Linked DNA regions of Homo sapiens: all the other regions are linked to region 1. The links come from fine-mapping of genetic effects on plasma protein levels. Region 1 holds a variant in brackets. A gene starts in each other region. All regions are shown on their reverse strands.

Evidence for each region. A credible set is the group of variants that fine-mapping cannot tell apart. PIP is the chance, under the fine-mapping model, that this variant and not a neighbour inherited with it causes the effect. The UK Biobank Pharma Proteomics Project read protein levels with antibody pairs (Olink). The fine-mapping took linkage between variants from a reference panel, not from the people measured, so its PIPs are less certain.
Region 2: it holds the start of PAG1, and the variant in region 1 is the best candidate, but not a certain one, in a credible set for the plasma level of the PAG1 protein (UK Biobank, PIP 0.79).
Region 3: it holds the start of PLXNB3, and the variant in region 1 is the best candidate, but not a certain one, in a credible set for the plasma level of the PLXNB3 protein (UK Biobank, PIP 0.75).
Region 4: it holds the start of SCARF1, and the variant in region 1 is the best candidate, but not a certain one, in a credible set for the plasma level of the SCARF1 protein (UK Biobank, PIP 0.74).
Region 5: it holds the start of SIT1, and the variant in region 1 is the best candidate, but not a certain one, in a credible set for the plasma level of the SIT1 protein (UK Biobank, PIP 0.74).

The regions. Positions count from the first base shown.
Region 1 is chr12:111,532,306-111,538,559 of GRCh38, reverse strand. The region is part of intron 5 of ATXN2 (ataxin 2); the gene reads left to right. Among named protein-coding and RNA genes, the nearest start is that of ATXN2, 64 kb to the left of the region's middle. The variant T/C (reference allele first, on the strand shown) is at 3,006.
Region 2 is chr8:81,108,904-81,115,157 of GRCh38, reverse strand. It overlaps PAG1 (phosphoprotein membrane anchor with glycosphingolipid microdomains 1), which reads left to right and starts at 3,090. Exons shown (of 9, transcript NM_018440.4): 1 at 3,090-3,567. RefSeq lists a silencer at 2,955-3,084 and an enhancer at 3,575-3,644.
Region 3 is chrX:153,759,246-153,765,499 of GRCh38, reverse strand. It overlaps PLXNB3 (plexin B3), which reads right to left and starts at 1,251. Exons shown (of 36, transcript NM_005393.3): 1 at 1,196-1,251; 2 at 1-29. PLXNB3-AS1 (PLXNB3 antisense RNA 1) reads left to right here. Exons shown (of 3, transcript NR_199696.1): 2 at 1,651-1,790.
Region 4 is chr17:1,640,246-1,646,499 of GRCh38, reverse strand. It overlaps SCARF1 (scavenger receptor class F member 1), which reads left to right and starts at 768. Exons shown (of 11, transcript NM_003693.4): 1 at 768-903; 2 at 1,261-1,322; 3 at 1,565-1,666; 4 at 2,533-3,058; 5 at 5,834-6,052. The coding sequence starts at 803. It overlaps RILP (Rab interacting lysosomal protein), which reads left to right. Exons shown (of 8, transcript NM_031430.3): 8 at 1-350. The coding sequence ends at 58.
Region 5 is chr9:35,650,664-35,656,917 of GRCh38, reverse strand. SIT1 (signaling threshold regulating transmembrane adaptor 1) reads left to right here and starts at 5,987. Exons shown (of 5, transcript NM_014450.3): 1 at 5,987-6,164. The coding sequence starts at 6,065. RefSeq lists a silencer at 6,207-6,254.

The DNA.
Region 1 (6,254 bases):
GCAATATGGTGGAACCCCGTTTCTACAAAAAAAATACAAAAAGTAGCCAGACACGGTGGTATGTACCTGTAGTCCCAGCTATTCGGGTGGCAGAGGTGAGAGGATCATCTGAGCGCAGGGAGATTGAGGCTGCAGTGAGCCAAGTGAGACCCTGGTTTCAAAAAAAAAAAGGTTACTAATTGCAGTGCCTTTTATCTTATTTAATGGGCTTAGTCAAACTAAGATGATGTATTTTATCTTATAAATGTTTTCCCTTGAATTTTAACTGAAGAATCCAATTTGTACCTCTCACAAACAGAATGTATTAGTAAGGAAAATAAATACTGCTTTTTATTACTTAAATAGGATATATTTTTCTCTTAGGGATTTTTTTTCTATTTTATCTCACTTTATCGTAGTGCTAGAAAATTTAATCATTCATTTGAGATAGGGAGAAAATTAGGTTTTTTTTTTTCTTCTATTTTGAGACAGGGTCTCATTTTGTTGTCCAGGCTGGAGTGCAGTGGCGCCATCGTAGCTCACCATAACCTCAAACTCATGGGTTCAGGTGATTCACCTTAGCCTCCTGATTAAGCTGGGACTGCAGATGTGTATCACCACTCCTGGCTAATTTTTGTTGTTATTTTTTGTTTGATGAGGTCTCATTATGTTGCCCAGGCTGGTCTCAAACTCTGGGCCTCAAATGATCCTCCTGCCCCAGCCTCCCAAAGTGCTGGGATTACAGGCATGAACCTCTGCTCCCAGCCCATTTTTTAAAATATATTCACAGCATTGTGCAACCATCACTACAATCAATTTACATTTTCATCACCCTGAAAAGAAACTCTGAACCCCTTAGCAGTTCCTCTCTGTTTGTTTCAATTTTCCCCAGCTCCAGGCAACTATTGATTTATTGTCTTCATAGGTTTGCCCATTCTGGACATTGCGTATTAATGGAATCATATAATATATAGCCTTTTTTTTTCTTTTTTTTTTTTGAAACAGAGTCTCACTGTGTCGCCCAGGCTGGAGCGCAGTGGCATGATTGCAGCTCACTGCATCCTCTGCCTCCCAGGTTGAAGCGATTCTCCTGCCTCAGCCTCTTGAGTAGCTGGGACTATAGGCGCCTGCCACCACACCTACTAATTTTATATTTTTAGTAAAGACGGGGTTGCACCATGTTGGCCAGGCTGGTCTCGAATTCCTGACCTCAAGTGATCTGCCCACCTCGGACTCCCAAAGTGCTGGGATTGCAGCCATGAGCCACCGCATCTGGCCATATATATTATGATAGGCTTGTTTCACTTAGTATGTTTCTTCCATGCTGTAGCATGTATTAGTACTTCTTTCTTTTTCATGGCCAAATATTCCATTATACAGTTACACAGGTACACTACATTTTGTTTATTCATCAGTTGGTGGACATTTTCATTGTTTCCACCTTTTGATTTATACATAATCCTGCTGCGAACAGTGACTTTTAAAGTTTTTGTGTGGGCCGGGTGTGGTGGCTCATGCCTCTGTAATCCCAGCACTTTGGGAGGCTGGGGCTGGCAGATCATTTGAGGCCGGGAGTTCGAGACCAGCCTGCCCAACATGGTGAAACCCTGTCTCTACTAAAAATACAAAAATGAGCTGGGTGTGGTGGCGTGCACCTGTAATCTCAGCTACTAGGGAGGCTGAGGCAGAGAATCACTTGAAGCTGGGAAGCCGAGGCTACAGTGAGCCGAGATCACGCCACTGCACTCCAGCCTGGGTGACAGAGTGAAACTTCATCTCAAAAAAAAAAAAAAAAAAAAAAAACTGCGTGTGGACATAGGTTTTCAATTCTCATGGGGGTGTGTGTGTATGCATACTCATACATACATACACATACCTGCAAGATAATTGCTGGCTCGTATGCTAAATCTATGTTGAACCTTTTACATAACTGTTGGGCTGTTTTGTTTTCTTTTTATTATTTTTTGAAAATAGAGTTGGGGTCTCACTGTTGCACAGGCTGATTTCCTGGGCATAGTGGCTGTATCATTTTACAATCCTACATAGCTGTTTCCAACGTAGCTGTATCATTTTACAATCCTACTAGCAGTGTCTGAGGTTTCTTATGTTTTTCACATCCTCACCAGCATTTGTTATTGTCTGTCTCTTTGATTATACCCATCCTAGTGGGAGAGTAAGAAGTAGTATCTCACTGTAGATTTTTTTTTTCTGTTTACAACTTTACTTTAAAAATTATATATGCACACATGGTAAAAAGTTCAAAACGTGTGTACCAAAAGATTTAACAGTGAAAATAGAAAATAAGTGTGGTCCTTGTTTTCTTCCACCAAGGCAAATATTGTTATAATCTCCTAAACAACTTGTCTTCCAGATTTCTCATTTTCAGTCAATCTTGGGCATTGACATAAAGAAATTCTTAGACATTGCTTTTATTAGATCATCTCATCCCTTGCTCAAAATCTTCAGTGGCCACTGTTGTTTACAGAATAAAGTTGGGATGCTATACAGGGCCCTTCCCAGTGGAACTTCTCTTTTTCAACCTTATCTCTCATTATTTCCCAATGTTTTTTTTTTTTTTTTTGAGACGGAGTCTCGCTCTGTCGCCCAGGCTGGAGTGCAGTGGCGGGATCTCGGCTCACTGCAAGCTCCGCCTCCTGGGTTCACGCCATTCTCCTGCCTCAGCCTCCCAAGTAGCTGGGACTACAGGCGCCCGCCACTACGCCCGGCTAATTTTTTGTATTTTTAGTAGAGACGGGGTTTCACCGTTTTAGCCGGGATGGTCTCGATCTCCTGACCTCGTGATCCGCCCACCTCGGCCTCCCAAAGTGCTGGGATTACAGGCGTGAGCCACCGCGCCCGGCCTATTTCCCAATGTTAATCTACTTATTGACCTACTAAGCTGGCATGTTCTGTGTGTTAGACATCACCAACTTTGTGCCTTCTTTTTTTGTTTGTTTTTGAGTTGGAGTCTCACTCTGTTGCCCAGGTTGGAGTGCAGTGGCGCGATCTTGGCTCACCACAACCTC[T/C]GCCTCCCGGGTTCCAGTGATTCTCCTGCCTGAGCCTCCCGAGAAGCTGAGACGACAGGCGCGCGCCACCATGCCCTGCTAACTTTTGTATTTTTAGTAGAGATGGGTTTCACTGTGTTTCCCAGGCTGGTCTCGAACTCCTGACCTTGTGATCCACCTGCCTTGGGCTCCCAAATTGCTGGGATTACAGGCGTGAGCCACCGCGGCCCCCTGTGCCTTCTTCTTTTACTCCTGGATTTAATCCCAACGTGAAGAATCTACCTTACTAACTAGAGTTTTAGATACTTTTTCAAAACCAAGCCCACATCTGTCCTTTTTAGAGTCTTCTCTGACCTTCCCTGCTCATTGTGGTTTGTTTTTATTGCCTGTAACAATGGCTGTTAAACTTTACATTTTAAATTAATTTATGTTTGTATGTATTTATTTGTTGAGAAAGGGTCTCTCTCTGTCACCCCTACTAGAATGCAGTGGCGCCATCATGGCTTACTGCTTCCTGGGCTCAAGCTGTTCTCCCATTTCAGCCTCCCCATGCACCACCCTACCTGGCTAATTTTTTTGTTTGTTTTTTTTAGTTTAGTTTTTGTAGAGACAGATGTCTCACTGTGTTGCACAGGCTGATCTTGAACTCCTGGGCTCACTTGATCCTCCCATCTCAGCCTCCCCAAGTGCTGGGATTACAGGTGTGAGTCACCATGCCCAGACTTTAACATTTTCTTTTTAGTATAGAATAGGTCAGTTTTTTTCCCTCTGATGAGATCCCATGCTGACTCTTAGTTAAAACAAGGCTTTGGTTGGAAGAAGAGCTAGTGATGTCCTAGCTCCCTACTTACTCCACTTTCCCTTGCCTTCTGGGGTGTCCTGAAGACATCATAGGGTGTCATGAAGTACAGTTGGAGAACCAGTGGTCTCCATCATGTACCAAACACTCATCTTCACGAAGCAGTATGTAGTGTCTTTTTTACCGGTATATTTTCTCTCTCCCAATGCATTAAACTTTTCTGGAGTTCAGAAAACAAATTTATAGAATTAAGGAAATGCGTCCCCCCCAACCATGGTGTCTAGTATATATACAGTGACTTACAGATAACAGGTGTTCAACATATATATATTCCTTTGATTGATTTTTGAAAAGTTTACATGTATATATTTTTTATATACGGGGTCTCACTCTATCACTGAGGTTGGAGTGTGGTGATGCAGATCTTGGCTCACCGCAACCTCCTCCTCCCAGGCTCAAGTGATTCTCCCACCTCAGCCTCCCGAGTACCTGGGACCACAGGTGCGCATCACCATGCCTGGCTAATTTTTTATATTTTTGGTAGAGACAGGATTTTGCCGTGTTGCCCAGGTTGGTTTCGAACTCCTGAGCTCAGGCAGTCCACCTGCCTTGGCTTCCCAAGTGTGAGCCACCACTGAAATACTTATATTTTTAAACTTAATTTATTTATATTTATTATATTTTTATGTTTTTATATTTTAAAAAATATTTTTATACTCACTAGACCCAATTTTATACTCCTAAACCAGGGAATAACTGTTTTTTTTTCTCTTACATAGGCATGATACCATAGACAATGATTAAAATTGTAATTACCATTCATTTCTTAGTTTTGTGGCTGGGACACTGATGTCTTCAAATGTTAGTTTGCAAATACAGTCAGCCCTCTCTATCCATGGGTTACACAGCTGTGAATTCAACCAACCATGGATCCAAAATATATGGGAAATACGCTGGGGCTGTGGGTCACACCTGTAATTCCAGCACTTAGGGAGGCTGAGGCAGATGGATCACCTGAGGTCAGGAGTTCAAGACCAGCCTGGCCAACATGGCAAAACCCTAGCTCTACTATAAGTACAAAAAATTAGCTGGCCATGGTAGTGCACATGTGTAATCCCAGCTACTCGAGAGGTTGAGACAAGCAATTTGCTTGAACCTGAGAAGTAGAGGTTTCCATGAGCTGAGATTGTGTCACTGCACTCCAGCCTGCGCAACAGAGTGTGAGAAGAAAAGAAAAAAAACTGTCTGAAAAGAAAAAAAAAAATTATATGGGAAATCAAAAGCATCTATACTGAACATGTACAGACTTTTTTTCTTGTCATTATTCCTTAAGCAGTACCACAACTATTTCCGTAGCATTTACTTTGTATTAGGTATTATAGGTAACCTAGAGGTTTAAAGTATGCGAGAGTATGCAAATACTACACCACTTTGTATCAGGGACTTAAGCATCCCTGGATTTTGGTATCCCTAGGGGGTATTAGAACCAATCCCCCATAGATGCTGAAGGACAACTGTAGTGTGTGTTGGAATAATTTATTTTCAAATGGATCATTTGGAGAACACTATTCTTTAGGAAACATAGCCTCCTAAGTTCTGTTCCATACATCCCTTTCACCTCCACGGCGTTGTAGCATCCTGCTTTCATGACTGTGTCATCACTCGGAAGGAACTGCTTCTCTTCCAGAATGCTTTTCAAGATCTACTCTGACCACAGCTATAAACTTTACACTTCTATTCTCTTCTTGCCCCTCACAGTGTTCTCTGTTCCTCTAAGATCTTAAACTCTGTCTACTCCTAATCCAGCCTGCTGGGTGTGGCTGGAGAAAGTCCCACTGGGGGGCTGATTAGTTAGGAATGTAGGGTTTCCAGCTCTTGCTGGAGCCTCAGAAGAGTTCAGCAGACTTTTTTTTTTTTTTTTTTCCTTAAACCTATTTCTGCAGCCTTGATGACCACTCCTTCCAGTCCCTCACCTATTTGCTTTATTCATGGCAGAGGCTCTTTCTTCCTGCTTGTCAGTACAAAGAGGCAGGATTCTTCACCTGGATCTGTGGATTCTCAAAGAATTTGTGGAGAGAATTCAGGGCATTGATGACCTTGGATGAAGAGAAATTTACATCTTTATTTACACTAACCTTCAAGTGAAATTTAGCATTTTTTGCCATTTAAAAATATGGGCAACAAACAACTAGTAGTATTAGCAGTATTTATGACTTAAGCACCTATAGAACTCAGTTAATTTCATATCGCTTGATGTTATGGGTATCTCAAATTATTATTTTATGTATATATATTTTTGAGATGGAGTCTCGCTCTGTCTCCCAGGCTGAGTGCAGTGGTGCAGTCTCAGCCCATTGCAACCTCTGCCTCCTGGGTTCAAACGATTCTCCTGCCTCAGCCTCCTGAGTAGCTGGGATTACAGGCGCACACCACCACGCCTAGCTAATGTTTGTATTTTCAGTAGAGAAGGG
Region 2 (6,254 bases), not on the chromosome of region 1:
GTCTCACTCTTGCTAGTCACCTTGGACTCCCCACAGTTCTCTTATCTGGACTGTGTCTATGAAGTAAGTGAAGATTTTCATGTCAAAGAATCCCTTTGAGTGAAATGGATGAAGAAATGTAATTAATAAAGGTGGAGAATTTTTGAGCCTAAGCTTTCCAGCTCAGTTGGTAAGCCTGTGATTTTTAGCAGAAAGACTTTAATAAAAATCTATCCTAGGTACAGTTTCTGCATGAGGGAAGAATAGTTTCAGTGGAGTCATTAGTGTCTATATAATTGAATATCTCACTACTAGGACTTTTAGAGGCATTGAAGGAAGGAATTCTCAGCCAAAGAGTAGGCCTTGCTGACCCATAAGGAATACAGACCTCAGAGAAAAAGATGTAGCTGCGATTTCTGCCAGACAATCAATAGCAGCTGATGTGAAATAAATTCTAAATACAGACACAGTCAATATCAAGACACAGTCAATATTAAAGCACAGTCAATATAGTATCAAGACAATATTATATATTTCATGTATTTAATGCCAATAACAATGGTTCAAAATTCAATAGCAGTAGGACACACCAATTAATAGTAACTTTTTATTTAATTAAATCTTGGATCTCTTGAAATCAATATACAAATGAATTATGTAAATATTTTGATTGAAATGTCGGGCACCTAAGAAAACAATGACAACTTTGGGTTCTTCTAAAGGTCCCAACATGACTATTCTGCTACCTTCATATTTAAAATATATATATATTTCTTATTAAAAACTGAAGTAAGTTTTACAACCTGTGATGTACCAGCTCCTTCAAAGAATTCTTTTTTCTTAGGAATTAATTTCATAATCACACCGAAGAATGGCTGTAATGGAAGAGTTAGATAAGAAGTAAAGATAAAGGCAGGTAGACCACAGTTGGCAGTGTAGCATTCCCAGTCAAACCTCTGGATTAGAAGACTGTATATAACTATCACATACTTGCTTCCAAAACATTACTCAGACCGAGAGTATAGCCCATAGCATCTACCACAAGCACAAGAATTGATCCTGACACTTTTGGTTCTCTATCTAGGAGTGGCTTTGAAATACATTTGAGTTCCAATTTACTGATGGCAAATCCTGATATGAAAAATTTGGAAATGAAAAACAATCCTCAGCATGTTACTTGGTGAAAAGAGAGCAGAGGAAAAGGACAGAGGCTAGAGATTGGCTCCTGCCTGCATTCGTGAATTTGTCTAAATCACTTAGCTTCTGAGCCTGGGTAAAATGAGGATGGTAATTACACTTGTCACCAGATAACGTGAATATTGCCCTTCAAACTCCTCAATGAAGCCTGCACTGTGGAACTGCAATGTCCTAGGACCGGGTTGCTCTTAGAACATTTTGTTCTAAGTGTATCCTAACAAGTGTAGCAAAACTGGAAGACACAAAATGTATTTCCTCCCCACAAGAATGAAAGCCTTCCTAACTCCAAATTTAGGCACAGCCTGTAAAAGATGTGACTAGTAAACACAGAAACCATTTGCTTTATAAGGTCTAAATTGTCCTCTTCTCCAGAGTTGTAGAAGCCAAGTCCAACACGGAGATCCCTACTTTTATTCAAGTTCCACCATTAGTCAACTCATGTCCAGGATGTCTTCTTTAATATATAAAATGGGGATACTTTTTTATATTATTATTCAACTTAAGAGACCACTGTGAAATTTCAGTGAGGTAACGTATGTGAAATGTTATACTCCATAAGTTCTTAAACACCTGAGTTTCATACCATGCTCTGAAGCAAGAGGCCAAGTCTGGTTCCTGGGTCCGCTTCCCCAATGGGCTTTTCCAAGCTGTAGGCTGAGTCTAAACTGTTTCCTCCCACATACCCTTCCCTCTGCGACACACTAACAACATCCCTTACTCCATCACTGTCTTCCTTACCCTCTCCTGATGAGCCTTCTTCCCCAGCCACCTTTAAGCTCCCATTAATGATATGTGTAACGAGTGTTCAATAGAGTGTGTGTGTGTATATTTAATGCCATTTATATGTTTTTTCTTGCTAAGTAATGCATCATAATTTTAGAAAATTGGGACTAGTCAGATAAAGCACCCGTTGGTTTAGAATCCCTGACTCAAAGTCAGATGTCCTGAGTTCTAGACTTGGTTTGTCTCCTTGTAAGTGCAAAAGTTTATTCCCAATTCCAGGTTGCTAGTGTAAACTTGAAGTTTGGCCCAAACAAAACCCCTATCAGATTTATTTAGAGTGTTGATGCCAAATGGAATTCTAGAAGCCCACCTTTGCCAGGGGCTGAGCCAGAACCACTATCACTGGGGGTACGGCCTGGGCATTTGTTCTGCGTTTTTTATAAGCCCCTCGGGTGACTGTCAGACAGGCCAACTGTTTCAGAAGCTCTGCTCCAGGCTCTAGATCACACGTTAAGTAGCAAGGATGGGGGTCTGGACCTCCAGTATTGGCATCCTCCGAGAGCTTGTTAGAAAGGATGTCTCCCTCATTATCCCAGGCCTACTGAATCTGAATCTTGCATCTCATCACAATCCGCAGGAGATTCTGTCACACACTGAGGGTTTGAGAAGCACTGCTGTACCTTGGTATCTTTAGATACCTACTGATACCTGGGTGGGCCCCACCCAGACATTGTCCTGTACTTGTTCTGGGATGCGTCCGGGGCAAAGGGTTCTTACAAGCTCCCCAAGTTATTTTAATGCACAGCCACAATAGAAGATCACTGTCCCCCAAATGGCAACCCTTTACGGTTAAGCTGTAACCTGAATTAAATTGGCTTTTGTGGGCTCCCCAGGGACCTTAAGGACCGCTTAAACGGTGCTGTTTAAAGGACAATGGGCTCCTGGGACAAGTTCAACCACAGAGCTTTGGGTTCATAAAATCAGGGCAGGGAAGACTTCCTGCATCCTCCCGCGAGCAAGCCAGGCCCCGCGCCGGTCCTCACCCGTGTGCACCCCCAGCCCGGCCCCGCCCGGCTCGCCCCCTCCCGCCCCGCGGCCCGCCCCTCCTCCCCCGTGACGTGCCGCTGCGGCCAGGATCATGCGCACTCGCGCCCCGCTCCCCGCGCGGCTGCTCCGCCTCGGCGCCTGTCATTCTCCGCGGCGCGGCGGCGAGTGCTGGCTGCGGTACCCTCCCGCTCGCTTGTCCGTCTGCGCGCCCGCGATGTGACCAGCCGACTGGGGGCGGGCTGGCGGCTCTGCCTGCGGCAGCGCATCGGTTTTTCTCCTGGCAGGTCCCTAATTGAGCCGTGATTCCCTTGGAGCCAGAGACACCCACCAGGGGCTCGGAGCGCCGCGCTCCGGGGCTGGAGGCAGCTGCAGCGCTCGGGTCCGCGCGGCCGGGTGCAGTAGCCTCAGTCCCAGCCGCCGCCTCGCTGAGTCGTGTGCCCTGGCGAATGCCCGGCGCCCGGCACAGCTGAGCCAAGGCGACTGGTGCAGAGCGGCGGCGCCTGGTCCTGCACTTGCCGCTGCTGCCGGGCTGTGCCGGGGCGGCGGCGCTGCGCGCCGGAGTTTGCAGAGGCTGCCTCCGAGCGCCGTCCGCCAGGAAGACTCCCTGCCTCCTGAGTCCCAGTAAGTTGACTGTAGTTTCTGAAGTTGGAGGGAGCCGTGGGAAGGAGAGGTTCGTTTTTATCTTCTTGTGGGAAGCCGAGGGTGGCACCTCTTGTTAACAGAGTTCCAGCTCGAGGAGGGAGTGCGGGGTGCCAAGAAGGGGACAAGGCAGCTGGAAGGTCTGGAGTCCAGGGCTGGCTGACCTCAGCATCTCACGAATGTGCCAGTTGGAAATATGCTGGGAGAGGACAGGTACTCCTAGGGCATTTCGACTGCTGCGTGCTAATTATTCATTCCAAGCTCCTTGACTCTGTGTTTACGTTGGGGTGAAGGGGCTGGGCAGGGTCTTGTCACCTCCATCCTAATTCCTCTGGGGAGTGTGGCCAGCACTGCGATGGATCTTTGGGCGAGCCATTTCTTTCAGGCCTGCAGGCTTCCCGCGCATCCCGCTTTACTCTTCCCCTAGGCAGAAGTTGCCAACCTTTTCATAATTGGAGCCTAGTCCTTTAGGGAAAAAACAACTTATATGTCGACCCGGTGTTTTATGCCCTAAGGCAAATAAAACGAGCTCTGGGCGTGTGAATTCATACACTTTAAGAATGTAGGCAAGTCTCAAGAAATAGGATTCAGATAATGACACTTGGATTTCACCCTGATTGTCCTGCACCTCTTATGTAAGCCTCCCGGCTGGATAACTTTATCTCTGCAGTGGCTGCAGCTGTGGCCCTCCATTCCATTTGTTTAAAGTCCAATTGAACAGTATTTACTGAAAATGCTGACATGATATAGCGGCCTGAAGTCTGAAACAGAGTGCACTCTTCAAATTGGAGTGTCTTCTCCTAATAGGGAGCATGGGAGGAACAACCCACTATATTTTTCAAGGCAGCTCCAGGAATTAGACCCATAAATCATGTTTTAAAATAGCATGCATTGTGCAGAGAGCATGCAGAGGACCGCTTTTTGAACACATCCCCTTTGTTTTAGAAAAAGTGGAAATTGTTCATGCCAGACAATTGTTGAGTCTAAAAGTTAAGTGTACTGATGGGCCTAATTATCTTAATAAACAAAGAGCATGATTTATAGGTAGCTGCAGTGCCCTACTTTGAAGGATAGAAATCTTTAACCTTTCTTTCTCAGCTGTTCCCGAGAGATTCCTTTTAAGCAGAGCTATGGATTATCATCATTGATGTTTAATACCTGAGTTGGTTAAACTTGTAAAAGGAATAGTACTTTGAAGTACCATGCAGTACTGCTGTGTGACTGTTACACAGCGAATATTATAAATAAGAGGAATATTTGGAGTATTGGGTATAGATGTCATTAGTTTAACAAAATAGGTCATATTAAGACTTTCCTGCTAAATATATATACACATACATAAATGTTTAATTTGGACTTGAAATTATTGTTTAAACCAAAGCTCAGGGGTATGTTTTAATGTAAGATTTATTTACATAATCTTTGAAGAGAGAAGTGCATTTATTTATGGTATTTCAGCATGCAGAACAAGATGAACTAGTTATAGGCACCTTATTTAAAGTGTAAAGGGTTTTTTTTTAGGAATACTAAGAAAATACACAAAATGTTATTTCAGAAGTTGAAAAGTTAGTCACATCAACACATTGCGGTTTGTGAGAGCATCCAGTGCTTATCTCTAGAAGAGATTACATCCAAGCATGGAATCTCAAACAGATTGACCCATTAAGCCCTATTGCAGCCTGGTTAGGAGGACAGGCTATGGAGCCAGGCTGCCAGCTCTGGTACCATCTGTTTGAATCTAGGCAAGTAACCCAAAGTCTGTGCCTCAGTGTCTTCATCTGTACAATGGGGATGACAGTAGTAGTACCTACCCCACTGAACAGTAGTGAGAATTAAATGAGTTCATAGACATAGAGCTGTTGGGCCAGTATCTGGCATATTAAGCTTGTTCTGGGAAAAATTTTCATTGTTATGAAAGGAAATGCATCTTTGGACTCTATGGACATTGAATTGCTGCTATGGACATTGAATTGCTGCTGATGAATATTAACAGAAGCAGTTCATGTGTATAATAGGAGAGAAGGTATAAACATTTATTGTGCACTGTCTAGCGATACAGACACCAACTGGTATTTAACACTGTCTTGCTCAATTCCCCACCACAGTCCTTTGAGGTAAGTGGCTTCATCTCTACTTTAGAGATGAGAAAATGGGAGCTCAGTGAGATCAAATAGTAGAAATTGGAGCTGGCATTTAACCCACGTCTGTCTGTGTTGAAACTGTGTTCTTTTTGACCCTGCTGCCTCAACTTGCAAATGAAGTAGTTGCATTATTATCCTCAATTTATACATGAAGAAATCTAAGCTTAAGGATTAAAGTATGCAAAGTGCTTAACAGCACCCACAACAGAAATGATCATAATTATTGTTAAATAACTTGCCCATGCTTCCATACCTCCTAATGTGTGGTAGAGGTGCCAGGTCTTTCAATTTGAAGTGGATTCTGTTGCTTTATTATTTTTCTATTCATGCATTCAGAGAGTCAAAAAAGAAAAATTGGTGTGATGTTAGAGTTTACACTGGAGGGTGGTGGTCTCCATTTGGTTTCCTGCCTGCACGTGTAGCTGCAGCAATCTACACAGTCAAGGAAACCACCACGGCAGCAGTAATCAATCCACAAACAGCGTCATCCCTGGATATGCATTCAGTCCCAGCTGGAGAACTCCCTTG
Region 3 (6,254 bases), not on the chromosome of region 1:
GCATGAGATGGCTGCGGGGGGGCATTGTCCTGAGTGGGAGGGAGACAGTCGAGGCTCAGCCCCATTCGAGCTGGCCTGGGGAAGGAGGGGCGGCGGTGGGGGTGGCGCCCAGGGCCTAGCGACCGGGCTCCCTCACAGCTGGCAGCTTTGTCAATAGTGGCCAGGCCAAGGCAGCCCTGCCTCCACCACAACAATGTTCCCTCTGTCCAGAGGCCAGGCCAGGGCCCCACTCGCTAGTGCTGTCACCCCCACTGGGCTGTTCTGGACAGGGGGCTCCTTGCCACTTCCCACCCTCAGGGAGCCACCCCCGGGATCCGGGGACAAAGGGCCGGGGTTTCCTCCAGCCAGCCCTCCCCCTCTGGCCCTGCAACCCCTGTGTCACTAAGCATGCCCCTCCCTGGCTCCCCGGGTCCCTGTGAAGGGCACGGGGTGGACCTTGGAGCCCCTGCAAATGCCGGCTGGTAGCCTTGGGGCCTGGGTGAAGTGCCAGTCCTGGCCCTCAATGCCTGCCTTTGTCCAAAAGATCTTCCTCCACACCCCCAGCCCAGCCCTGCCCCTGGGGACTGGTGAAGTGGTGCCAGGTACAGCATGGTGGCAGCGAGCAGGACCACGGGAGGAGGCTGCTTGAGATGGGCTGAGGCAGAGGGTCCACAGGCCGGGGCTGTCCACCCCACCCTCTGAAGCACCGTCCTGCTGGCCTAGATGCCATCCATGCAGGGGATGGGGAAGGGAGGGGCACCTAGCAGCTAGACCCCCTGTCACCCTCACAGGCCACCCTGGCCAGTGGCACAGGAGCAGGTGCACTGGGGATGGGGTCTCTGCCTCCCCCACAGCACGGCAGCAGTAGGCTCCAGGGCAAGGTGGCAGTGGGCTGCTGTCACCTGGCTGGGCCAGTTGGGTGGCTGTGGGGGTGGGGAGCCAGGCGGGCAGCCTCTCTACCCTGTACCCTGCCCGAGGCTGGCGTTGGCTTTCCCATTTCGGGGAAGAAACATGGTTCCCCACCTCCTAACCCCAGGGCTACCACTTGGGGGACACCGTGCTCCCAGACACCTAGTGCCGTCGTCAGGCTGGGCCGACACCCGAGCGCTCTTGCCTGACCCCAGCCAGTTGGCCCTGAGACCCTGATGCCTTGCCCTGAGGCTGGTAGCCCCTGCACCCCAAGCCCAAGCCCAAGCCTGCCCCAGCTCTTGCCTACCTGGTGGGCCACCGGCGAGGGCCAAGTAGCAGCTGGCGGTGCCAGGAGCACGTCTCACAGAGCCCCAGCCTCCCTCCCCACAATGCAATCGTGCCCAGTCCGACTCATCCCAACAAGCCCGGCCAGGCAGCCCAGCCTCTCTCCGCCCGCCCCTTTGCCCAATGGCACAGGGCAGGATGTTGCTGCCCTCTGCTGGCCGCAGCGGGCATGATGGAGTACTGACCGTGGGCACCTGGCAGGTGAGAGACGGCAGCGCCCTCCTATTGGGTGGGCATTCCATAACCTGGCACGAAGCACCTACTGGATGCCAGGCTTGGGCTTGGCACTGGCACCATCCAGAAACAAACACAGGTTGGGAAACTGAGGCACAGGAGGTTAGGAAACTTGAATAAAGTCACACAGCTAGTATGTGGCAAGGCTGAGTCAATCACAGGGCCCCTTCACTTAACCGTCAGGCTACATGACCTTGAACCATGAACCTTGGCAGGCGTTGGGCAGGAGATGGAGCTGAGGCCTACCCCAGGCCAGGCCTGGACGTGACATGCCCACGTGGCGTTGAGGAAAAACCAGTGTTTCCCACCGACTGGAACACAAGGTTGGTCAAGGGCCGTCTCCCAGGGTGTGGCGGAGGTCAGCAAATCAGGTGGGGTCTTTGTGGCCAGGCTTGAGAACTTGAACTTGTCTCGCCATGGGCAACTGCAAGCTGGTGGCACTGGGGCAGAGAATGTGGGGAGGCCTGGTCCAGTGGTGGTCATGGGCATGGAGAGAGGCGGGCGCGTTCTAGAGGCGCTCTGGGGAGGCAGCATTCTGAAGACTGTGCGTTGGACCCAGGGCAGGAGGCGAAGGCAGGAGAATCCAGGCGACCCTGGGGCTTTTCTGCTGGGGCACTGTTCCCCCTGTGGCAGGGCCATCCACAGAGGGGCTGGCGGAAGTGGGAGGACGGTAAGACTGAGGGGCCCATGAGGGAGGAGGAAATGGTGATGGGGCTGGGGAGGCCTGGGGGTGAGAAGCTTGGCTCAGGTGGCTGGAGCCCTGGGGGCGGCCAGGGTATAGGGCCAGGTGTTGGCCCTGGAGCTCAAAGGCCCAGCAGACTCGGGGTATGGGTGCTTCCCTGAGCAGCTGTGTCATTCTTTCCAACCTGCATGGAGAGAAATGGGGCACAGAGGTGGGTAACTTGCCCAGGGCCATGACCTGACGTCGTTTCTTCAGAGTGCATTCCACAGAGATGGGATTTGAACCTGGGCATTCTGGCACGGGCCACGCTCTGGACCACTGGGCCCCAGATCCACAGCTTCTCACCTGCAGCCGCTGAGGATGTGGAGGCAGACCAGGCAGGCCCGTGGGAAGGACCACCAAAAAGCGAGTGAGCAGCCGGCGAGGGGTCTCTCCCCAACAGGAAGGCCAGGCAGCCTTGAAGGAGCCAGGGAGGGATTTAGAAGCTCCAGGAGGGGAGGCTTGGGGGAGCCAGCTGGCCTCTCTCCCTCTCCCTGTCCTTCCCCCCATGCCTACCCCAACACACACACACATGTCCTTGCTGGCCCCGGATGAGACAGACGCCTGCAATCTGGCATGGGGAATGGGTTTCTCCTTCCTTTCCACAGAAGAAAATAAATCAGGCTGGGCGTCGTGGCTCCCGCCTGTAATCCCAGCACTTTGGGAGCCTAAGGCAGCAGGATCACTTGGGCCCAGGAGTTCTAGACCAGCATGGGCAACATAGTGAGACCCCCATCTCTATAAAAAAATTTAAAAATTAGCCAGGCATGGTGGTGCGAGCCTGTAGTCCCAGCTACTTGGGAGGCTGAAGTGGGAGGATCGCCTGAGCCTGGGAGTTGGTGCCTGCAGTGAGCCGTGATGGTGCCATTGCACTCTAGCCTGGGTGACAGTGCAAGACTCTGTCTTTAAAAAAAAAAGAAAAGAAAGAAAGAAAAAAGAAAATAAATCCATCCACAGGCAGCACCATTTTCATAAATATGTGTGTATATGGCCTGCATATGCACCTTCTACGCTTTCTGAGCAGATAAGAGGCGTGGCTATGGCAGCCCCTGGTCTGAAGCTGGTGTAACCAGAAAGGATCTAGGCTGGTTTGGGGAACCGGAACATCTTATGTCAGGGGAGTCGTGCTGGATTTATCCTGCAATGGCCGGGTCCCCTCACCAAGGGATGGGAAGGCAGCGTCAACTGATCTGGTGTCGTCTCCTTGCTGTGTGCCAGGCTTCTCAATGCTGGAAGGGGACTCGTTGGGTCAGTGGGACGTGGGCTTCACGTTTGCTGGGCTGAAGACGTAGCTCTCCATGCTGGCATCCCAGCGGACACCCCCACTGCCACTGCTGCACCACGTCTTCACGTACACCAGAGAGCAGACTTGAGAGTTTCTGCGCATACAGTGGGTGTGAAATGGTGCCCTGCTGGGTTTTGAATCGGCATTCCTTGACCACCGGCCATATTGCAGCACTTTTCATTTCTTCTGTCAAATGCCCGTGCATGTCTTGGCTTACACTTTGCAGGTGTTCTGTATTTTCCACACCAATCCCTGGGGTGTATGTCTTCGGCCTACCTGTTACTTGTCTTCTCAGTTTGCTGATGTATCATGTGATAAACAGAAAGTCTTAATTTTAATATCATAGCATTTATCAATCTGATTTCTTTTTTTGAGACGGGGTCTCGCTCTGTCGTGCAGGCTGGGGTGCATTGGCGCAATCATGGCTCACTGAAGCCTCCTGGGCTCAAGTGATCCTCCCACCTTAGCCTCCCAAACACCTGGGACTACAGGCAGGCGCCACAGTGCCTGGCTAATTTTGTAATTTTTTTGTAGAGACAGGGTCTCGCTATGTTGCCCAGGCTGGTCTCAAACTCCTGGACTCAAGCGGCCCTCCCGCCTTGGCTTCCCAAAGTGCTGGCCCGTGAGCCTGTGAGCCACTGCGCCTGGCTACCTTCTTTTGAATTCCCATTCAGACTGTGTGTTGCTGGTACATAGAAAAACAATGGATTTCTATGTATCAAGTAACCTTGTAAACTCTCATATTAAGTCTAATAATTATGTTTGGGTTCTCTTTGTGGATTCTTTTTGATTTTCTGCGTACACAATCCTATCATCTGCAAGTAATGACCATTTTGTTTCTTCTATTCCAGTCTTTTTAGCTTTGATTTCTTTTTTTGAGGCAGAGTCTGGCTCTGTCACCCAGGCTGGAGTATAGTGGCACAATCTTGGCTCACTGCAACCTCCGCCTCCCTGGTTCAAGCAGTTCTCCTGCCTCAGCCTCCCAAGAAGCTGGGACTACAGGCACCCACCACCACGCCTGACTAATTTTTGTATCTTTACCAGACACAGGGTTTCACCATGTTGGCCAGGCTGATCTGGAACTCCTGATCCACCTGCCTTGGCCTCCCAAAGTGCTAGGATTACAGGCGTGAGCCACTGTGCCCGGCTGATTTCGTTTCCTTGCTTTACTTCCCTGGACTTGCTTTCTCTTGCTTTTACTTCCTTTGAATGAAAGCATAGGAGGCGCTGGGCATGGTGGCTCACGCCTGTAATCCCAGCACTTTGGGAGGCCGAGGTGGGTGGATCACCTGAGGTCAGGAGTTCGAGACCAGCCTGACCAACATGGAGAAACTCTGTCTCTACTAAAAATACAAAAAAATTAGCCGAGCATGGTGGCCCATGCTTGTAATCCCAGCTACTTGGGAGGCTGAGGCAGGAGACTCGCTTGAACCCAGGAGGCCGAGGTTGCGGTGAGCCAAGATCGAGCCATTGCACTCCAGCCTGGGCAACAAAAGCGAAACTCTGTCTCAAAAAAAAAAAAAAAAAAAAAAAAAAAGCATAGGAGGCATTCTCAGTGTTCCATTATTAAGTATGATGTTTGCAGGGAGCATTCGGTAGATATGTTTATCAGATTTAGAAAGCTCCCTCCCATTCCTAGTGTGCTATATGTTGAATTTTTATAAAATGCTTTTTCTGAATGCATTAATATGATCACAGGGTTTTCCTCCTCTAATCTGTTAATGTGGCAAATTACATTAATTCATTTTTAAATGTTAAACCACTCTTGTATTTTCTGGACTAAACTCAACTTTGCGTGATGTATTTTTTTCATATACAATTCTGGATTGGGTGGTTTTTTTTTTTTTTTTTAGCCTCGTATTATTATCCTCGTCTGGTTTTGGTATCAAGACATCGTAAAGTGAGTTGAGGCAGTATTTCCTTTTTCAGCTGTTCACTGGAACAGTTAGTCTAAGATGGAGATGATCAGTTACTTCCATGTTTGCTGGAGATCATCTGTAAAACCATCTAGGCCTTCCTTGTTTTTTATTTTCTGTTTTTTGTTTTGTTTCTTTTCTTTTCTCTTCTTTGTTTTTTTTGTTTTGTTTTGTTTTGTTTTGTTGTTGTTTTGAGACAGAGTCTCACTCTGTTGCCCAGGCTGGAGTGCAGTGGTACAGTCTTGGCTTACTGCAACCTCTGCCTCCTGGGTGCAAGCGATTCTCCTGCCTCAGCCTCCCGAGTAGCTGGGACTGCAGGCATGCACCACCACGTCCAGCTAAGTTTTGTATTTTTAGTAGAGACGGTGTTTCGCCATGTTGGCCAGTCTGGTCTTGAACTCCTGACCTCAGGTGATCTGCCTGCCTCGGCCTCACAAAGTGCTGGGATTACAGGCATGAGCCACCGCATCTGGCCTGGCCTTCCTTGTTTTTGTAGCTTCCTGCCTGTCCCCCTATAGATTTTAAACAATGAATCCAACTTCTGTAATAATTATGGGACCATTTAGGTTTTCTGTTTCTTCTTGAGTAATTTTTTTATTGTGGGAAAAAATACATAACACAAAATTTGCCATCTTTTTTTTTTTTTTTTTTGAGACAGGTCTTGCTCTGTTGCCCAGGCTGGGGTGCAGTGGCATAATCATTGTAACCTCAAACTCCTGGTCTCAAGCAATTCTCCTGCCTCAGCCTCCTGGGTAGCTGGGACTATAGGCATTCACCACCATGCCCAGCTAATTTTTAATTTAATTTTTTTTTTTGAGACAGATCTCACTTTGTCACCCAGGCTGGAGTACAGTGGCGTGATCTC
Region 4 (6,254 bases), not on the chromosome of region 1:
CTGTTCTGCCCTCCACGAACACCTTTGTCTGGGGGCCTCAGCCGCCCCAGAGGCCTGACTTAGGGGTCTGGCTGTGGAAGGATGTGTGGCCTCAAATGAGGACAGGGCTCCCGCCTTCACAGCCCTCGCCAGGGGTCTGCCCCAATCCTGGCCTGCATCAGGGCAGGACGGGGTCTCAGCCCGCCTCCCTCTCTACGTCTCTGTACCGAGCCTCTGGGGCCAGATATAAGAGTGCCTCTCTGAGTCTCAGTTTCCCCATCCATGAAATGAGAGCTGACTGCCTAGCTCCCAGGGCTTTGTGCAGACGGCCTGAGCTCATGTAATAAAGAACTGCCCGTAATACACAGAAACTGTTCCTCGCCTGTCTGTCCATGTCTGTGCCACCTCCCAACCCTGCCAGGAGCAGAGGCAGGCTGAGGGGTCCTCGCTGGTCTCCTTGCTCAGTCACTGGGTGGGGTGGCTTCTTGCAGCTCAGGCCTTGCTTTGGGAGTGTGGCCTGATGGAAAGCCGTGGCTCCCAGCCTCAGTCCACCCCCTTCCCTGGCCCCGGCACCCAGGGACCTGCAACTTCATTCTTCTGGCCCTTCCAGGCCCAGGCCAGTCAGCCCTGCCATTGCCTTTCTTTCCCTTTCTTTTTTTGAGTGTCAGTCTTTCCAGCCACCCCCTCCCTCTCAGGGAGGTGCCTCGTGGCAGCCCGCCCCTCCGGCCTGGTTTCCTCAGGAAAAGCCCTGAGAGGAAGCAGGGAGGGGGTTGGGAGCTGTGGGGGCCAGACGAACCCGAGCGCTCCCACCGAGCTGCCTGCCATGGGGCTGGGGCTGCTGCTCCCGCTGCTGCTGCTCTGGACTCGGGGGACTCAGGGGTCCGAGCTGGACCCCAAAGGGCAGCACGTCTGTGTGGCCAGCAGGTGGGTCTCGTGGGAGTCTGATGCGTGTGGCCAGCAGGTGGGTCTCGTGGGAGTCTGATGCGGGTGGCTGAACCGGTGTTGAGGCCGTTAGGGGAAGGAGGAGACTAGGAAGGGGGCTTAGGCTGAAAGGAAGGGACTGCTGATGGCGGTCTGGCAGGTAGTGGCCAGCCAGGGCAGATGGTGGAAGGGTCAGGGAAGGAGAGGGGAGGGGCTGGGGACCCTAGCTGTAAAGATCCATTAGGCCTCCCCAGGGGGCTAAGGCAGCCTCCCCCACTGCAGCCAGAGACAGTGATCCACCTTCCTCAGGGCCAGGCTGCACCCCCCACCATGTCCGGCTGACCCCTTTTTGCCCCACAGCCCCTCTGCTGAGCTGCAGTGCTGCGCAGGCTGGAGGCAGAAGGATCAAGAATGCACCATCCGTGAGTAGCCAGGACAGACCCTCAGCCAAGGAGAAGGGAGGCCGTAGCCCAGTGACAACCCTTCCTTCCTACCCCATGGGGCCTGCCCCTCCTGATACCAGGAGTCAGGGTTTCTCCTGTGACGCACCCCCAGGCCTGAAGGGGCACCTCTTGAGGAGGCATGGCCCCTGGAGCCAGTGAGAGGGCAGGGGTGTCCCCTGGTCCTGCTCCCGTCTTTCCAACCTGGGTGGGGTGTCTTTCAGCCATCTGTGAGGGGCCGGACGCCTGCCAGAAAGACGAGGTGTGTGTGAAGCCGGGCCTCTGTCGATGCAAGCCTGGATTCTTTGGGGCCCACTGCAGCTCCCGTGAGTCTCAAGGGCCAGATGAAGTTGCTGGGCAGAGCTGGGTACGGGGGCAGTGGTGTGGGAGCAGGCGAGGCAGGTAGCCATGCAGCCTCAGGACAGCAGGGCCAGAATCCCCCCCAGCTTCACTGAGGAATTGCGGTCCAGAGACAGGAAGTGACACACACTCCCGGGAGATGACCTGAGTCACCGGGTTTTTACCCACATCCACAAAGCACTGCCCACCTGAGCATCTTCCTCTTCCACTTCTCAGAAAACCTGTGATTCCCCTTCATTGTAAAATGAGTGTATTACTTGCCTTTCCCACATATACCTTATACATGGGCAGTGGATGGAAGGGGGCCCCTGGCTGGGCTCTCTGCCCTCTCTGGCAGAAAGAGAGGGAAGGGAAAGGGGTTGGGAAGCAGGAGAGCCAGAGGGTGGGCATCAGGAATCAAGGAATCACTAGGGGAAAGGTGGCTTCTCCCGACACCCTGGCGGGCAGTATCCAGGCCTGAGATCAGGAGAAAGCCAGCTCTCCTCCAGCCCAGCAGAGATCCATCTCGGCAGGGAGGAGCAGGCATGGAGGAAGGCCCACCAACCTCGGTGCCACGCTCTGGGCAAGTCCCCTGCCCACTCAGGATCTCTGAGTGTGTTCTGGAATGTGAAGTGGCAGGCTGAGCCTCCCACTAATGGCTAAGGGTTTTCTGTAGGTCAGAGCGGAGCAGGAAGTGAGTGTTGCCCAGGACAGGCTGCCGGATGTTCTGAGGGTCTGTCCCCGGCTCTTGGAGGATGGGCCCAGCGCCCCTTTTCCTTGAGGAAGGGGACGCAGGGTAAGGGTCTGCGCGCGGCCCTGAGCCCGCTGACCCCTCCCGTCCCCACCCCCGCAGGCTGCCCGGGCCAGTACTGGGGCCCCGACTGCCGTGAGAGCTGCCCCTGCCACCCGCACGGCCAGTGCGAGCCAGCCACGGGCGCGTGCCAGTGCCAGGCCGACCGCTGGGGAGCCCGCTGCGAGTTCCCGTGCGCCTGCGGCCCCCACGGGCGCTGCGACCCCGCGACCGGCGTGTGCCACTGCGAACCCGGCTGGTGGTCGTCCACGTGCCGCCGCCCGTGCCAGTGCAACACCGCGGCGGCGCGCTGCGAGCAGGCCACGGGCGCCTGCGTGTGCAAGCCGGGCTGGTGGGGGCGCCGCTGCAGCTTCCGCTGCAACTGCCACGGCTCCCCGTGCGAGCAGGACTCCGGCCGCTGCGCCTGCCGGCCGGGCTGGTGGGGTCCCGAATGCCAGCAGCAGTGCGAGTGTGTGCGGGGCCGCTGCAGCGCCGCCTCCGGCGAGTGCACCTGCCCGCCCGGCTTCCGCGGAGCGCGCTGCGAGCTGCCCTGCCCGGCAGGCAGCCACGGGGTGCAGTGCGCACACAGGTGAGCGGGCGGGGCGGGGACAGGTGGGCTGGCGGGGCGGGGGCGGACACAAGTGAGCAGGCGGGGCGGGGCGGAGACAGGGGGGCGGGGCGGAGACAGGGGGCGGGGCGAAGACAGGTGGGCGGGGCGGACACCGGTGGGCGGGGCGGACACCGGTGGGCGGGGCGGGCACCGGTGGGCGGGGCGGACACCGGTGGGCGGGGAGGGGGCGGGGTGGAAACTGGTGAGCGGGCAGGGTGGGGGCGGGGCGGGCACAGGTGAGCGGTCGGGGGAGGGGGCGGAGGCGGACACAGGTGAGCGAGGCTGCGCGGAGACCTGTGAGCGGGCGGGGCGGAGCGGAGACAGGTGGCCGCGGCGGGGCGCCGGGAGGAGGGGTCAGGGCTTCGCGGTGCTCCTCTCAAAAAACATACAAAGCAGAGGAACGAGAAAGGGGAAAAGTCGGATAGGTGGGGTGGCTCACACCTGTAATCCCAGCACTTTGGGAGGCTGAGGCGGGTGCATCACCTGAGGTCAGGAGTTCGAGACCATCCTGGCCAACATGCTGAAACCTCGTCTCTACTAAAAACACAAAAATTAGCCGGGCTGCGCCTGTAGTCCCAGGTATTCGGTAGGCTGAGACAGGAGAATCGCTTGAGCCCTGGAGGCGGAGGTTGCAGTGAGCCGAGGTCGCACCACTGCACTCCAGCCTGGGCCAGAGAGCAAGACTCCGTCTCAAACAAAACAAAACAAAAACTTTTAAAAACGCTTTGTTGCCCCAGGTCCAGCCTCACCTGCTCATTTCATTGATTACTGCTGTGCAAAATATACTAGCACTGCTAGCAAGCCATATGTAGGTAATAAGTGGATCGAGTCCAACAATGATAGACTGGGTTAAGAAAATGTGGCACATATACACCATGGAATACTATGCAGCCATAAAAAATGATGAGTTCATGTCCTTTGTAGGGACATGGAAGAAATTGGAAATCATCATTCTCAGTAAACTATCGCGAGAACAAAAAACCAAACACCGCATATTCTCACTCATAGGTGGGAGTTGAACAATGGAATCACATGGACACAGGAAGGGGAATATCACACTCTGGGGACTGTTGTGGGGTGGGGGGAGGGGGGAGGGATAGCATTGGCAGATATACTTAATGCTAGATGACGAGCTAGTGGGTGCAGCACACCAACATGGCACATGTATACGTATGTAACTAACCTGCACAATGTGCACATGTACCCTAAAACTTAAAGTATAATAATAAAAAAATATATATAAATATATTTAAAAAAAGAAAATTAAAAAAATGGTTTCTTACAAAAAAAATAATAAATAAGTGGATCGAGTGACCAAGGGTCCTGAGCAAGGTCCCTTTAGGGCTCAGTGGCTTTCAAACTTTGACTGGCTGCACTCACAGTAAGAAATTTCATCCCTGGCTGGGCGCGGTGGCTCACGCCTGTAATCCCAGCACTTTGAGAGGCCGAGGCGGGCGGATCACCTGAGGTCAGGAGTTCGAGACCAGCCTGGCTAACATGGTGAAACCTCGTCTCTACTAAAAATACAAAAATTAGCCGGGCATGGTGTTGGGCGCCTGTAATCCCAGCTACTTGGGAGGCTGAGGCAGGAGAATCACTTGAACCCGGGAGGCGGAGGTTGCAGTGAGCCAAGATCGCGCCACTGCACGCCAGCCTGGGCGACAGAGTGAGACTCAGTCTTGAAGAAAATAATAATAAAATAAAATAAGAAATAAAAATGCTGGTCAGGATCAGCTAAATGGCTTTTATAAACTGCCCTTCTTCTCCCCTACTAATGGGTCTGACCCAAGTATATGATCCCAGCTAGTTAAGCATCTGAGGGAGAAACTTCAGGTAACTATTAGGCATCAATGGGAAATTAAGATATGGCAAATGTGAAATTATATTGGTGACAACAGTGGTCTCCAACCTTTTGGCACCAGGGACTGGTTTCATGGCAGACAATTTTTCTATTATTACACTGTAATCTATAATGAAATAATAATATGACTCACCATAATATAGAATCAGTGGGAGCCCTGAGCTTGCTTTCCCGCAGCTCGAGGGTCCCATCTGGGGGTGATGGGAGACAGTGACAGATCATCAGGCATTAGATCCTCGTAAAGAGCATGGAACCTGGACCCTCCCGTGCGCAGTTCACAATAGGACTGGCGCTCCTATGAGAATCTGAGGCCACCACTGATCTGGCTGGCAGCGGAGCTCAGGCGGTCAGGCTCCCCTGCTGGTCATCTCTACGCTGTCGCCCAGTTCCTAACATGCCACGGACTAGTACCAGTCCATGGCCCAGGGTTTGAGGACCCCTGGGTGAAAACACTTTACATTTTTTGCATTTCGTGTGATGGGGTAGAAGACACTACTGAGTCCCATTCATGCCAGACCTGGGGACGGCTCAGTGTGGAAAAAGGAAAAGTGAAAAGAGCAGGAGGGAAGGCCTGGCAGACCTCGCAAATGGGACTCAGAGCTTGGTGGTGACTCGCCTGCCCTGGCTGGGCTGCTGGCTCCTGATGGTCCTGGGACCCAGGGAAAGACGGTCACAGAGCAGATGCCTGGAAGGAAAGGGATGGGATCCTGTAAGAGCCCTCATTTGTCCTCATTGTACAACGTGGGGAAACTGAGGCTCAAACCTGCCTGACCCAGGTGGGACCCGAACACTCTCCAGGGCCCCCGAAGGCCTGCGTGGAGTACAGGGGTAGGAGGGGGTGGGCGCTCCATCCATCCACCCCCACTGTTCCCACGAAGCCCTTCTCTTCCCAGCTGTGGCCGCTGCAAACACAATGAGCCGTGCTCTCCAGACACAGGCAGCTGTGAGTCCTGCGAGCCGGGCTGGAACGGGACCCAGTGCCAGCAGCCCTGCCTGCCTGGCACCTTTGGCGAGAGCTGCGAACAGCAGTGCCCTCACTGCCGACATGGGGAGGCCTGTGAGCCAGATACTGGCCACTGTCAGCGCTGTGACCCTGGCTGGCTGGGGCCCAGGTGAGGGCACCATTCTGTTCAGGGTGGGGTACACCTTCCCCCAGGACCCTCAGCTCAGCGGCTCTCTCCGAGAGCACCACCCTCCCCGACACACAGGTTCATGCGGCCCCAGGGGCCTCCCTCCTGTTGAAGACTGGGGGAGAGCAGTGGGTTCTGGGGGGGCCTGGGCAGGATCCCAGCTCCCTCCCCTCTGAGGCTTCCT
Region 5 (6,254 bases), not on the chromosome of region 1:
CGACCTTCAGTTCTCAGCTCAAGTGTGTTCCCATCATTCGGAACCCTTAATTCAACTTCTAATTTATTCTTTAGTGCCGCTATTTCACTTTCTTCAATACCACTAGACAAGCAGTCCCCAACCTTTTTGGCATCAGGGACCGGTTTCGTGGAAGACAATTTTTCCATGGACGAAGCGGGGTGGAGGGATGGTTTCCGGATGAAACTGTTCCACTTCAGATCGTCAAGCATTAGATTCTCACGAGGAGCGTGCAACCTAGATCCCTCCCATGCACAGTTCACAATATGGTTCGCGCTCCTATGAGAATCTAATGCCGTGCTCATCTGACAGGAGGCGGAGCTCAGGCGGTAATGATTGCTGGCCCCACTGCCCACATCCTGCTATGTGGCCCGGAGCCTAACAGGCCACAGGCTGGTGCTGGCCTGTGGCCGGGTGTTGGAGACCCTTGAGCTAGGCTGGTCCTAAATTCCACAAGGGCAGGAGCCACCTCTCTTTTTTCTTTACCATTTTACTCCCAGAGCCTAGCACAGCACGTGGCGCCTGGCGATAGCAGGCACTCAATGAATCGTTGTTGAATGAAATTAATGAATGGTTAAAATGACCCAAAAGGGTAATATAGTTAAGCTCTTTCAAAGAATGAGGCAACTGCAATTCAGCAAGGTTAAGTATGCTACTAATCAGGTAAGAGGCAGGGTGGTGATTTCACCAGTTTTTTGCCTGTCTCTATACCTTCTGTCGAACAGCCTTTCCCCATCCTTGTCTTCCATGACTTCACCAGGCAGGCAGGTATTCCTTCTGTTCCACAGAGCCTTCCATGGTCTCTTAATTGGGATACACTGGGTCATCTGTCTAGTTAGATCAAGAGCTCCCTGACATGAAACCATTTCCATTCATCACATTTTTATCTCCAGAGCCTGGCATACAAACAGGCAATCAGTACATCATGTGTGTTAAATAAATGAATGAAGCCAAGATCGGTGGCTTATGCCTCTAATCCCAGCACTTTGGGAGGCCGAGGCAGGAGGATCACCTGAGGTCAAGAGTTTGAGACCAGCCTGGCCAACATGGCTAAATCTCGTCTCTATTAAAAATAGAAAAATTAGCCGGGTGTGGTGGCGGGCGCCTGCAGTCCCAGCTATTTGGGAGGCTGAGACAGGAGAATCACGGGAACCTGGGAGGTGGAGGTTGCAGTAAGCCGAAATCGTGCCACTGCACTCCAGCCTGGGCAAACGAGTGAGACACCGCCTCAGAAAAACAAAACAAAAACAAAAATTAACCAGGTGTGGTGGCCAGCACCTGTAATCCCAGCTATTCAGGAGGCCGAGGCATAAGAATAGCTTCAACCTGGGAGGCGGAGGTTGCAGTGAACAGAGATCGCGCCACTGCACTCCAGCCTCAGTGTCAGAGCAAGACTCCATCTCTAAATAAATAAATAAATAAATAAATAAATAAATAAATAAATGAAATATGGGTGTGTCTTCTTGTTTTTCCTGAAAGGAGGAGGAAGGGCAGGACAGGGAGAAACCCTCACCAAGGGGAGTTATCATAGTGTAGTTCAAGGGTCCCCAACACTATTGGTCCATGGCCTGTTAGGAACTGGGCCGCACAGCAGGAGGTGAGCAGCGGAGGAGCAAGGGTGAGCGGCGGAGTAGCGAGGGAAGCTTCATCTGTATATACAGCCACTCTCCATCCTGGCATTACCGCCTGAGCTCTGTCTCCTGTCAGATCAGTGCAGTGTTAGATTCTCATAGGGCCACGAACCCTATTGTGAATTGTGCATGCACGTGATGTTGTGGGCTCCTTATGAAAATCTAGGCCAGGTGCAGTGGCTGATGCCTGTAATCCCAGCACTTTGGGAAGCCAAGGTGGGTGGATCTCTTGAGGCCAGGAGTTCAAGACCAGCCTGGACAATATGGTTAAAAAAAAAAAAAAGTCTCTAATAAAAATACAAAAATTAGCTGCGCATGGTGGCGCATGCCTGTAATCCTAGCTACTTGGGAGGCTGAGGCATAAGAATTGCTTGAACCCAGGAGGCGAGGTTGCAGTGAGCCAAGATTGCACCACTGCACTCCAGCCTGGGTGACAGAGCGAGACCCTGTCAAAAAAACAAAACAGAACAAAAAAACCACAATACCTGATGATCTGAGGTGGAACAGTTTTATCCCAAAACCATCCCCTCCTCCCATACTCCTGTGCATGGAAAAATTGTCTCCCACAAAACCTGTCCCTGGTGCCAAAACGGCTGGGGACCAGTGGTCTAGCTGATGACCCAGTGACAGCCTGGGTACGCAAAGCAGGGTAATAGAAATCTTGAATCTAAGCCAGTTGGCACAGTCGGTGTAAATAAGGGGTTCAGGCCAGATATAATAATGATAAGTGGTCCCCAACTGATTATTGCCTTTAGAGAACTCAGGGCACTATTGCCAGATCTTTTTTTGAAGGAATCAACAAATTAGAATTTTAAAAATTTGAAATCTCCCAATTTTTAACTGTTGACAAGGAATCAGTGGCATACTTAGCATATTTGACACCAAGTGGTCTTTGTGTGTGTGTGTGTGTGTGTGTGTGTGTGTGTGTGTGTGTGAGAGAGAGAGAGAGAGACAGGGTCTCCCTCTGCTGCCCAGTCAGGAGTGCAGTGGTGAGACCATGGCTCACTGCAGCCCCAAATTTCTTGGATCAGCCTCCTGAGTACCTGGGACTGCAGGTGCACACCACCATGCCCAGCTAATTTGTGTGTTTTTTTGTTGTTGTTTTTTGTTTGTTTGTTTGTTTGTTTTTTGTAGAGACCAGGGTATTGCCCAGGCTGGTCTTGAACTTCTGGCCTCAAGGAATCTGCCTGCCTCAGCCTCCCAAAGTACTGGGATTACAAGTGTGAGCCACCTTGCCTGTTCCGGATCATTTAAAAAACATTTTTCTTTCTTTTCTGTCTTTTTTTTTTTTTTTTTTTGAGACAAGCTCTCACTCTGTTGCCCAGGCTGGAGTGGTGCAGTGGCACAATCATGGCTTACTGCTGCCTCTATCTCCCAGGCTCAAGCAATCTTCCCACTTCAGCCTCTTAAGTAGCTGTGACTACAGGCACACATGCCCCCATGCCTCGCTAATTTTTTAATTTTTTGCAGAGATGGGAATCTCACTATGTTGGTTAGGCTGGTCTCAAACTCTTGGGCCCAAGCTATCCTCCCACCTCAGCCTCTCAAAGTGCTGTGATTACAGGTGTGAGCCATCACACCTGGCCCAAATTTTTCTTTCTTTCTTTTTTTTTTTTTTTTTGAGATGGAGTCTTGCTCTGTCGCCCAGGCTGCAGTGCAGTGGAGTGATCTTGGCTCACTGCAGCCTCCACCTCCTGGGTTTAAGCAATTCTTGTGCCTCAGCCTCCAGAGTAGCTGGGATTACAGGTACCTGCCACCATGCCCGGCTAATTTTTGTATTTTTAGTAGAGACGAGGTTTCACCATGTTGACCAGGCTGCTCTCAAACTCCTGACCTCAGGTGATCCACCCACCTCAGCATCCCAAAGTGCTGGGATTACAGGCGTGAGCCACCATGCCCAGACCCAAATTTTTCTTGTTTTCTTTCTTTTTTTGGGGGTGGGGGGCAGGGTCTCACTCTGTTGCCCAGGCTGGAGTGCAGAGGCTTGATCTTGGCTCACTGAAACCTCTACCTCCTAGGCTCAAGCAATCCTCCCACCTCAGCCTCTCGAGTAGCTGGGACCACAGGCGTGCACCATCACACCTGGCTAATTTTTTGTATTTTTGGTAAAGACGGGGTTTTGCCATGTTGCCCAAGCTGTTCTTGAACTCCTGGGCTCAAGCGATCCTCTTGCCTCACCCTCCCAACGTGCTGGAATTGCAGGCATGAGCCACCATGCCTGGAACAAAGTTTTATTTTTCAAGTGGATCATTTAAAAAAATGCTTTATGGCCAGGCACGCCACTTCTCTCCAGCCTGGGCAAGTGAGCCGAGATTGTGCCACTGCGGTCTGGTCTGAGCGACAGAGGGAGACTCCATCTCAGATAAATAAATAAATAAAATTAAAACAAATTTAAACATTCTTTATATGACAAAATTATTCTCAATGGCAATTATAAAATGAATAATAAGGGCCAAGAAATAAACTCAGTGAATATTTTCTTTCCTTGAACTTTGTAAATATAATCATGTCAGCATAAAAACAGCCATGCATTGCTTAACAACAGGGATATGTTCTGAGAAATGAGTCACTAGGCAATTTTGTCATTGTGCAAACATCATAGAGTGTATTTTCACAAACCTAGATGGTGTAGCCTATTACCCATCTAGGCTACATGGTATAGCCTGGTGCTCCTAGGCCCCAATGCTTACAGCATGTTACCATACTGAATACTGTAGGCAGTTGTAAGACAATGGTATTTGTGCATCTACTGTAGAGACAGGGTCTCTCCGTCTGTCGCCCAGGCTGGAGTGCAGTGGCATAATCATAGCTCCCTGCAGCCTCCAACTCCTGGGCTCAAGTGATCCTCCCACCTCAGTCTCCCAAGTAGCTAGGACTACACGCTTGTGTCATCAGGCCTGTCTACTGTTTTTGTTTGTTTTTTGGTAGAGATGGAGGGTCTCACTATATTGCTCAGACTGGTTTTGAACTCCTGGCCTCAAGCAATCCTCCTGCTGCCTTGGCCTCCAAAGTGCTGGTATTACAGGAATGAGCCACTGCACCTGGTCCACTACAGCAATTTAAAAGTTAGATCTGGGCTGGGCGCAGTGGCTCATGCCTGTAATTCCAGCACTTTGGGAGACCGAGGTGGGCAGGTTGCTTGAGGTCAGGAGTTGAGACCAGCCTGGCAACACAGGGAGACCTATCTCTACAAAAAATGAACTAGATTAGCTGGGTGTGGTGGCACATGCCTGTAGTCCTAGCTGCTTAGGTGGCTGAGATGGGAGGATCACTTGAGCCCGGGAGATCGTCAAGGCTGCAGTGAGCTGAGATTGTGTTACTGCACTCCAACCTGGGAGACAAAGTAAGACCCTGTCTCAAAAAAAATATAAAACTTAGATCCATAAAATATTTTTCAGGGAGGATAATTTTATCACTGATTTTTTTTTTCAGAATTTCTGGAACATGGTGATAATAAGAGGACTGATTTTTATTTTTTAAATTCTCTACAGACAATGCACCCCCTTATTGCCTGCAACTCAAGGGGCAGGACTTCTGCCATCCCTATTGTTGGCATGCCACTGCACTGATTTTAAACTTTTAAAAAATGTTGTATGGGCTAGACAAAACACATCTCTGACTTCTGGTCTCAGGTTTATATTTGCAACTTAAAATCCCTCTTCCTACATCAATAGCCTTGCACGTGATGGAGTTAGCTCTAGGTATGGCAGGTACTACACCCGCTGAAGTGAACATGTGCAAGATAGGGCTCAGTTTCCCAGGACAGTCCTACAGCAAAGAGTTTTAAAATGCAATTAATTATTGAGAGTGACAGTTCTTACAGACAGTTTGGATGAAGTGGGTTGAAAGGGGAGGTTTGGGGGTGTCCCCCAAATTATAATGCCCCCAATGAAACAATAACAAGCATCATCTAAACACATATCCTCTCAGATCAGCCTTAGGGTGTGATGGGATCAGAGGTACCAGGAGGCTCCCCCGACCCTTCCACTTTATACCATACTCATTGAGGAATACATCTTTCTTCTGGGACCAGAGTCAGGGAGGAAGGTGGGCATCCTGGAGCAGAAGGGGTGTTCCTGTCCTTGTTAGTCCTGCTTCACACCACTTCTGCCCCCACCCCCCGCCCTCAGAGTCCTCAGGGACTCAACTGCCCGTGGCACATTACCCACAGGCCTGCTTCTCTTCTCAAGGGGGGCAAAGGGCCTGGGCAGCGAGGGTGGGGGAAGCTCAGGAGCTGCAGGAGTGGCGCAGGTGCAGGCACAGGGCGGGGTCTTTGTTCTTTTTTTCATCCCTCCCCTCCCCCTTCCTCCCCGGAAACCAGAGACTTTGCCACCACCAGTATTGGGGATGCTGAGCTGCGGGGTACGGGCCTGAGGAGGGATGGGAGTAAGAAGTGCTGTGGAAACCGTCAGGCCATGAACCAGGCTGACCCTCGGCTCAGAGCAGTGTGCTTGTGGACTCTCACATCTGCAGCCATGAGCAGAGGCGACAACTGCACGGATCTACTCGCACTGGGTGAGCTGGGCAGGGCAGGGGCTGGTGGGGGAGGGGTCATGTGGCCCCAGGTCCCACCTGCTGGGCCCTGGGGGTGGGGCGGGGCTGTTA